2 linked regions of the Homo sapiens genome follow. The protein of the gene in region 1 binds, or shares a complex with, the protein of each later gene. Each region holds a gene or a part of one and is shown on either strand. Other genes may lie near its edges.

Region 1 (3,811 bases):
GCCTACGGGGCAGCCTACGGGGCAGGCTACGGGGCAGCTTACGGGGCAGGCTATGGGGCAGCCTACGGGGCAGGCTACGGGGCAGGCCCTTGCACTGCACATCGCACGTTGAGCCACAGACTCAGAAGGCTTCTTCAGGGTCCAGGCAGGTGGGGAGGGATGGGGGTGACCTGGAGACTCCTGCCCCGCAGCAGAGGACAGTTTCATCTGTTCACTGGGGAGTGCCTTGTGGGCCTAGGAGTTCAGTGCTGTTTTTTTCTGATTTTCCAAGAGAAGCTGGAAATCTGGATATTTATAAGAAATCTGAATATTGAGTGATGGCAAAATCTCAACACCATGTGAGCCAAACAGACCAGTCAGGAGCCCTGGTTCAGGCTCTGCCCAGGAGCCTCTAAAGGTCTGTGACGTGAAGACATTTGTCGTTGTGCCGAGGCACTGGTTGGATTCGGGGGTGCGTGTCTCCCTCATGTCTGCCCGGCATCCTCGGCTCAGAACCCCTCCTGCTGCTCCTTCTTGTTTGCTCGTTGTCTTGTCTTCTTTTGAGGTGAGAAATGTGTTTTCCCTGTGGGGAATGTGGTGTTGAGAAAGAAAAAGGCTCACAGTAAGTGGCCTGGGGCTGTGCCCGAAAAGTAACTGATTCTGACGGAATCTCGCTGTGTGGCCCAGGCTGGAGTGCGGTGGCGCGACCTCGGCTCACTGCAAGCTCCACCTCCTGGGTTCACACCATCCTGCTGCTTCAGGCTGCCCAGTAGCTGGGACTGCAGGTGCCTGCCATCACGCCCGGCTAATTTTTTTGTATTTTTAGTAGAGACGAGGTTTCACCGTGTTAGCCAGGATGGCCTTGATCTCCTGACCTCATGATCTGCCTGTCTCTGCCTCCCAAAGTGCTGGGATTACAGGTGTGAGCCACCGCGCCTGGCAGTAACTGATTCTTAAGGGAAATGAGCTCCCGAGAAAGCTGGAAGCCTGTCCTACATTTTTTTTTAACCTATTTGCAGATTCGCAATTGAACCCTCTTGAGATTTTAGAGTCTACTGGTTTTGTATATTTTTTGCTTAACATTATATCTTCAAAGGTGAATTTTTTTTCATTTAGCATTATGATATGAATTTGTTTAAATGCTGCTACATCATTTGCATATTTTTTTTGGGTTAATGTGATATTTCTCCTAGTTGATATACTCTAATTTTTCAACCATTTCCATATTTATTTATTTATTGTTTAGAGACAGGGTCCTGCTCTGTCACCCAGGTGGAGTGCAGTGGTGTGATCACGGCTCACGGCAGCCTTGACCTCCCAGGTCCAAACGATCCTCCTACCTCAGTCTTCTGAGTAGCTGGGACTATAGGCATGTGCCACCACTCCTGGCTAATTTTTTTTTTTTTTTTTTTTTGTAGAGACAGGGTTTTGCCATGTTGCCTAGGCTGTTCAACTCTGGGGCTCAAAAGATCCTCCCAAAGTGGTGGGAGCCACCATGCCTGGCTGTTTGTGTATTTTTTGAGACAGATTCTCACTCTGTCACCCAGGCTGGAGTGTAGTGGCATGATCATAACTAACCGCAGCCTCAACCCCCTGAGCTTGAGTGACCCTCCCACCTCAGCTCTCCCAGTAGCTGAGACTATAGGTGCGTGCCATCATGCCTAGTTAATGAAAAAAAGTTTTTGCAGAGATGGGGTCTTGCTATGTTGCCCAAGCTGGTCTTCAGCTCCTGGGCGCGAGGGATCCTTCAACCTCAGCCTCCCAGAGTGCTGGGGTTGCAGGCGAGAGCCACCGCGCCTCGCTTATTTCCCTGTTTAAACTGGTCTTAGGTTATTTCCTTTTTGATATTTTTGCTGTTGTAATAATGGTGTGGGTAATATCTTTGAGCAAGATGCTCTTATATTTCTTTTGAGAAATTTTTTAGGCATCAATTCTCAGGAATGGATGAAAGGATCTAGTTATTTTATGATTATTGGCCAAATTGAAGAGAATTCTGCCACCTGCTGAATGCATTCTGTCTCCGGAGCTTCCTAGCCTTATATTTTAACTTTTTACATTTAGCTGTTTATTTTTAGGTGAAGTTGAGTCCTCCCTCTTTCTTCCTTGCCTTTCGCCGGCCACACGCCCCGTTGCCGTGCATGGGCCCCTGCTCAGTGCCTCACCTGACCCACTGCACCTGGCCAGGTGGAGGAGCATGTCAGCCGCATCCGGGAGGAGCTGGACCGCGAGCGGGAGGAACGAAACTACTTCCAGCTGGAGCGGGACAAGATCCACACCTTCTGGGAGATCACACGGAGGCAGCTGGAGGAGAAGAAGGCTGAGCTGCGGAACAAAGACCGGGAGATGGAAGAAGCCGAGGAGAGGCACCAGGTGGAGATCAAGGTGAGTGGGGCCGGCCTGCACGTGCTAACCTGGTCACCACAGAGCCCCAGAGGAGCTGGATCCAGTGAGGGTGCAGGTGGGACATTTTCTGTTCTTGGCTTTGGGAGTCACAGCCTTAAAGGTGTTTTTTATAAAAGCCTGAGGGAGAGACCCTGCAGGTCCTGAGGGTTTAAAATGCTGCCTCCACAACATGGAAGGAATATGGGCTCTGGGGGCAGACTGGCCTGTTTGCAACTCAGCTCTGCCACTTAATACCCCATGAGCTGGGGATGCACCTCACCTCCCAGCCTTGGTGTCCTGCTCTGTGCCTCAAGTGTACAGGTTTGCATAGGTGAACAGGCATGTGTAGCTGTGTAAAGGTGAGGCATGCAAGTGAGCAGGTGGATGCAAGTGAGCATGTGTGTGCAGGTGAGGAGGCGTGGCCAGGTGAGGAGGTATGTGCAGGTGAGGTGTGGGGAGGTGAGCACGTGGGGCAGGTATGTGCAGGTGAGCAGGTAGGTGCAAGTGACCAGGTGTCTACAGGTATGTACAGGTGAGGAGGTGTAGTACAGGTGTAGTGCAGGCGACCAGGTGTGTACGGGAATTTACAGGTGAGGAGGTGTACAGGTGACCAGGTGTGTACAGGTATGGACAGGTGAGAAGGTGTGGTACAGGTGTGGTGCAGGTGAGCAGGGGGGTACAGGTATGTACAGGTGAGGTGTGTTACAGGTACGGTGCAGGTGATCAGGTGTATACAGGAATGTACAAGTGAGGAGGTGTGGTACAGGTGACCAGGTGTGTACAGGTATGGACAGGTGAGGAGGTGTGGTACAGGTGTGGTGTGGGTGAGCAGGAGTGTACAGGTATGTACAGGTGAGGAGGTGTGGTACAGGTGACCAGGTGTGTACGGGTACGGACAGGTGAGGAGGTGTGGTACAGGTGTGGTATGGGTGACCAGGTGTGTACAGGTATGGACAGGTGAGGAGGTGTGGTACAGGTGACCAGGTGTGTACGGGTACGGACAGGTGAGGAGGTGTGGTGCAGGTGTGGTATGGGTGACCAGGTGTGTACAGGTATGGATGGACAGGTAAGGAGGTGTGGTACAGGTGACCAGGTGTGTACAGGTATGGACAGGTGAGGAGGTGTGGTACAGGTGTGCTATGGGTGACCAGGTGTGCACAGGTACGGAAAGGTGAGGAGGTGTGGTGCAGGTGAGCAGATGGTACTCCCATTGCCCTGCAGGTGTACAAGCAGAAAGTGAAGCACCTGCTATATGAGCACCAGAACAACCTGACAGAGATGAAGGCTGAGGGCACTGTAGTCATGAAGCTGGCACAGAAAGAGCACCGCATACAGGAGAGTGTGCTGCGCAAGGACATGCGGGCACTGAAGGTGGAGCTCAAGGAGCAGGAGCTGGCCAGTGAGGTGGTGGTGAAGAACCTGCGGCTGGTAGGTGTGGCGGGGGCACCTG
Region 2 (3,811 bases), on another chromosome or scaffold:
GTAAGGGAGGCAGGGAAGAACCAACACACAGGCGTGTCACTGAGACTGCTGCTGCAGGTGACGAGGGAGGATTCCCCGGCCTCGGAAGTGTCCAGAATGCCTCCCAGAAGTGACCCTCTAAGGACAGGAGCCTAAGGCATTTGATTCCCGCAACAGCTGAGGGAGACCCCAGGGGGATTAACTTTCTTGCCACCTGGCTTTTGGGCTGGGTGGGCTTCTTTGGCTTCAGAGATATCTCTGAGGCAGAAAGTGAGTAATGAGATAGGACGCTGCCAGCTAAGGTCTCTCATGGCTACAGCTGAAGCCGGAGGTAAGCTGAGCCCCTGCGGCAAACAACAAGGGCATTTAGTGGCGTGATAATTGGCACTGCAAGGAAGGGGTGCTTATCAGCAGAGCTTCAAGGACGTGAGTTCCTTCTGCCTCTGGGCTCTGCCATCCTCAGCATCTCCCCAGAGCTTGATTCTCTTAATGGTTGCAGTCAAGGACACGGGCTTCCTTGTCTGCATCTAGCAGGATGGAGAGAGCAAGAACTCTCCTTCCGACAGTGGCCCTTTAGTCTGATCAAGCCCCCTCAGGGTCTACACTGACCCTCAGCCTAACATCATGGCTGGGTGACGGCCAGGCTGGGCTTACATGAACAGCCTGGGGTGGGAAGCACCGAGTTGTCACTAGCAGTTCCGTTGGGTCAAGCCACAGAGGTGGTGGAGTCTCAGAAGTTTGCCCTGCATGCCAGACAGGCAGCATCCAAACCCATGCATGGTCTTGCATGAATCAGCCCCTGACCTTGTCTCTACTCCCATCTCAACTTCTTCCCAGCCCTCTCCCCGCATTCTGCAGCCACCCTGGCCTTTGCTCAGTGCCTGGCATGTGCCAAGTTCTTTGCTGCCTGGGGCCCTTGCCTGTGCTGTCTTGGCTTCCAGGAATGTGCTCTCCTCTGCTCTTCTGCGGCTGGCTCCCTCAGGTCTCAGATTAAATGTCACCTCCCCAGAGAGACCTCTGAATCTCCTAACTGAAAGAGGCCTCCCTGTTATTTTCTCTCAGGGTGCCATCTTGATGTTCCTTACAGCACTTAACTCAAAGCATAATGGTTTTATTTACTTTTTAAAACATTTGGCCGGGCCCGGTGGTTCACACCTGTAATCCCAGCACTTTGGGAGGCCAAGGTGGGCGACTCACTTGAGGTCAGGAATTCGAGATAAGCTTGGCCAACATGGCGAAACCCGTCTCTACTAAAAATATAAAAATGAGCCGGGTGTGGTGGCGGGTGCCTGTAATCCCAGCTACTCCAGAGGCTGAGACAGAAGAATCGCTTGAACCTGGGAGGTGGAGGTTGCAGTGAGCCGAGATCGCGCCACTGCACTTCAGCCTGGGTGACAAGAGCAAAACTCCATCTAAAAAAAATAATAATAAATTAAAAAGAAAACATTTTTCCCCCACTCCTAAAATATGTGCTCTTGCCATAAGGGCAGGGACCCCACAGGCCTTGTTCCCCACTGTATCTTCATAATTTAGCACATGCCGGAGGCCTGCTAGGTGACTAATAGTGTTTGCTGCTAGGTGACTAATAGTGTTTGCTGCTAGGTGACTAATAAATGACTGAAAGAAATTCACTCAGAAAAGCATGCTAGATTTTTTTTTCTATCTTTTGCATAGTACAGTGTCTAGATGCTATCCAATGAAGTATTGCTTTTTTTTTTTTTTTTTTTTTTTTGAGAAGGAGTCTCGCCCTGTCACCCAGGCTGTAGTGCAGTGGTGCAATCTCGGCTCACTGCAACCTCCGCCTCTTGGGTTCAAGCGATTCTCCTGCCTCAGCCTCCCAAGTAGCTGGGACTATAGGCGCCTGCCACCATGCCCGGCTAATTTTTTTTTTTTGTATTTTTAGTAGAGACGGGGTTTCACCATGTTAGCCAGGATGGTCTCCATCTCCTGACCTCAAGATCCACCTGCCTCAGCCTCCCATAGTGTTGGGATTACAGGCGTGAGCCTTGTACCCGGCCAAAGTATTGCTTTTTTAAAATACTTTTTTGCCAGTACTTTTAATGGCAAAAACCACAGTTACTTTTGCACCAATCTAATATTAACTACCTGGTTAACATTTTCCTCATTTTACTAAAAATAGAGTGTAGGGAGAATAAATAAAGTTACTGGAATGTTCCCCTAGCTGTTATCCAGGGAATCCAAGGTTAGCCATAAGTTGGGTCCCATTTAATTTAAGATATTTGTACCTTCCATGGGGCTTTACAATCTACAAAGGCATGCCTGGCCAGGTGCAGTGGCTCACGCCTGTAATCCCAGCACTTTGGGAGGCTGAGGTGGGAGGATTTATTGTGACCAGGAGCTCGAGACCAGCCTGGTCAACACAGCAAGACCCCATCCCTACTTAAAAACAAAATAGGGCCGGGCGCGGTGGCTCACGCCTGTAATTCCAACCCTTTGGGAGGCCAAGGCTGGTGGATCGCTTGAGCCTAGGAGTTTGAGACCAGCCTGGGCAACATGGCAAAATCCCATCTCTACTACAAACACAAAAATTAGCCAGGTGTGGTGGTGCAGGCCTGTAATCCCAGCTACTCGGGAGGCTGAGGCACGAGAATCACTTGAACCCGGGAGGCAGAGGTTGCAGTGAGCCAAGATCGCACCTCTGCACTCCAGCCTGGGCAACAGAGCAAGACTCCATCTCAAAAAATAAAATTAAGTTAAATTTAAAAGATTTTTAAAAAATAAATAGAAGGGTATGCCTATGCTGGTAACAGCAACTAAAACGCCCATTACCGAATAGGTGTCAGGCACTCTTCCAGTGCTTTTTATAGCTTATTTCACTTGGTCTTTATAACACCTGTAACACACATGATATCCTTATACCCGTTTAACAGATGTGGACGTTGAAGCTCACAGATGTTGGGTAACTTGTTCAAGGTCTCACCACATGGTTCAGCAGACCTGAACCATGGTCTGCTGGTTCTTTGAAAAGCCCATTTCTGACAGAAGGTCTCGGTACTGCTTCCCAGCCTGGAACACCCCCACGCCTGCACACTGCCTGTCACCCCACCCCAGTGCTGATGGTGCTGTGGCCAGGCTGACTCTGAAAGAGTACTGAGGAGGGAGGTGCAGCTGTGTTTTCAACTCTGTGGCAGCCAAGAAAATGGGCCTTTCTCCCTTTTTCTCCCCAGATCATCTACCTCCGGCGGTTCAAGTGCCTGCGGACGCTCAGCCTCTCTAGGAACCCTATCTCTGAGGCAGAGGATTACAAGATGTTCATCTGTGCCTACCTTCCTGACCTCATGTACCTGGACTACCGGCGCATTGATGACCACACAGCAAGTGTCTCCCTCTCAGTCTCCCAGCCCTGTGAGACAGATTCCTCAAGCCCCCAGGTTTCTTGGAAAAGGGGCATTGAAGAGTAGCTTCCCCTGCCCACAACTAGGAGAGAAAGGGCAGCTCCCTCTTCCTAATCCCTTTACCTGACTCTGTCAGAGTGATTCCAGCAGCACCCTTGTAAGTACTGTTTTGTGTGCGTTCCCAGGGGCCAGGCCTCTTCCACACACTGTCCCAGGGCCACCTCACAGCCATCCTGCACTGTCTAGTTTTCCAGATGAAGAAGCTGAGGAGGGCTGGGAGCAGTGGCTCACGCCTGTAATCCCAGCACTTTGAGAGGCTGAGGCGGGAGGATCGCTTGAGCCAAGGAGTTCAAGACCAGCCTGGGCAACATAGGGAGACCCCATCTCTACAGAAACTACCAAAATTAGCCAGGTGTGGTGGCACACACCAGTAATCCTGGCTACTCACAAGGCCGAGGTAGAAGAATCGCTTGAGA

What was found.
Region 2: DRC4 (region 1) and DRC3 share a complex: the UniProt entries of both Homo sapiens proteins name them as parts of the nexin-dynein regulatory complex.

What each region holds. Positions count from the first base shown.
Region 1 is NC_000016.10:90,029,136-90,032,946, forward strand, and holds part of DRC4 (dynein regulatory complex subunit 4), read left to right. Parts: exon of another isoform or gene 1-766; intron 767-2,040; exon of another isoform or gene 2,041-2,163; coding exon 2,164-2,361; intron 2,362-3,582; coding exon 3,583-3,789; intron 3,790-3,811. UniProt on the Homo sapiens protein: Component of the nexin-dynein regulatory complex (N-DRC), a key regulator of ciliary/flagellar motility which maintains the alignment and integrity of the distal axoneme and regulates microtubule sliding in motile axonemes.
Region 2 is NC_000017.11:17,989,598-17,993,408, forward strand, and holds part of DRC3 (dynein regulatory complex subunit 3), read left to right. Parts: exon of another isoform or gene 1-217; intron 218-3,167; coding exon 3,168-3,314; coding exon of another isoform or gene 3,315-3,371; intron 3,372-3,411; exon of another isoform or gene 3,412-3,492; intron 3,493-3,811. UniProt on the Homo sapiens protein: Component of the nexin-dynein regulatory complex (N-DRC) a key regulator of ciliary/flagellar motility which maintains the alignment and integrity of the distal axoneme and regulates microtubule sliding in motile axonemes.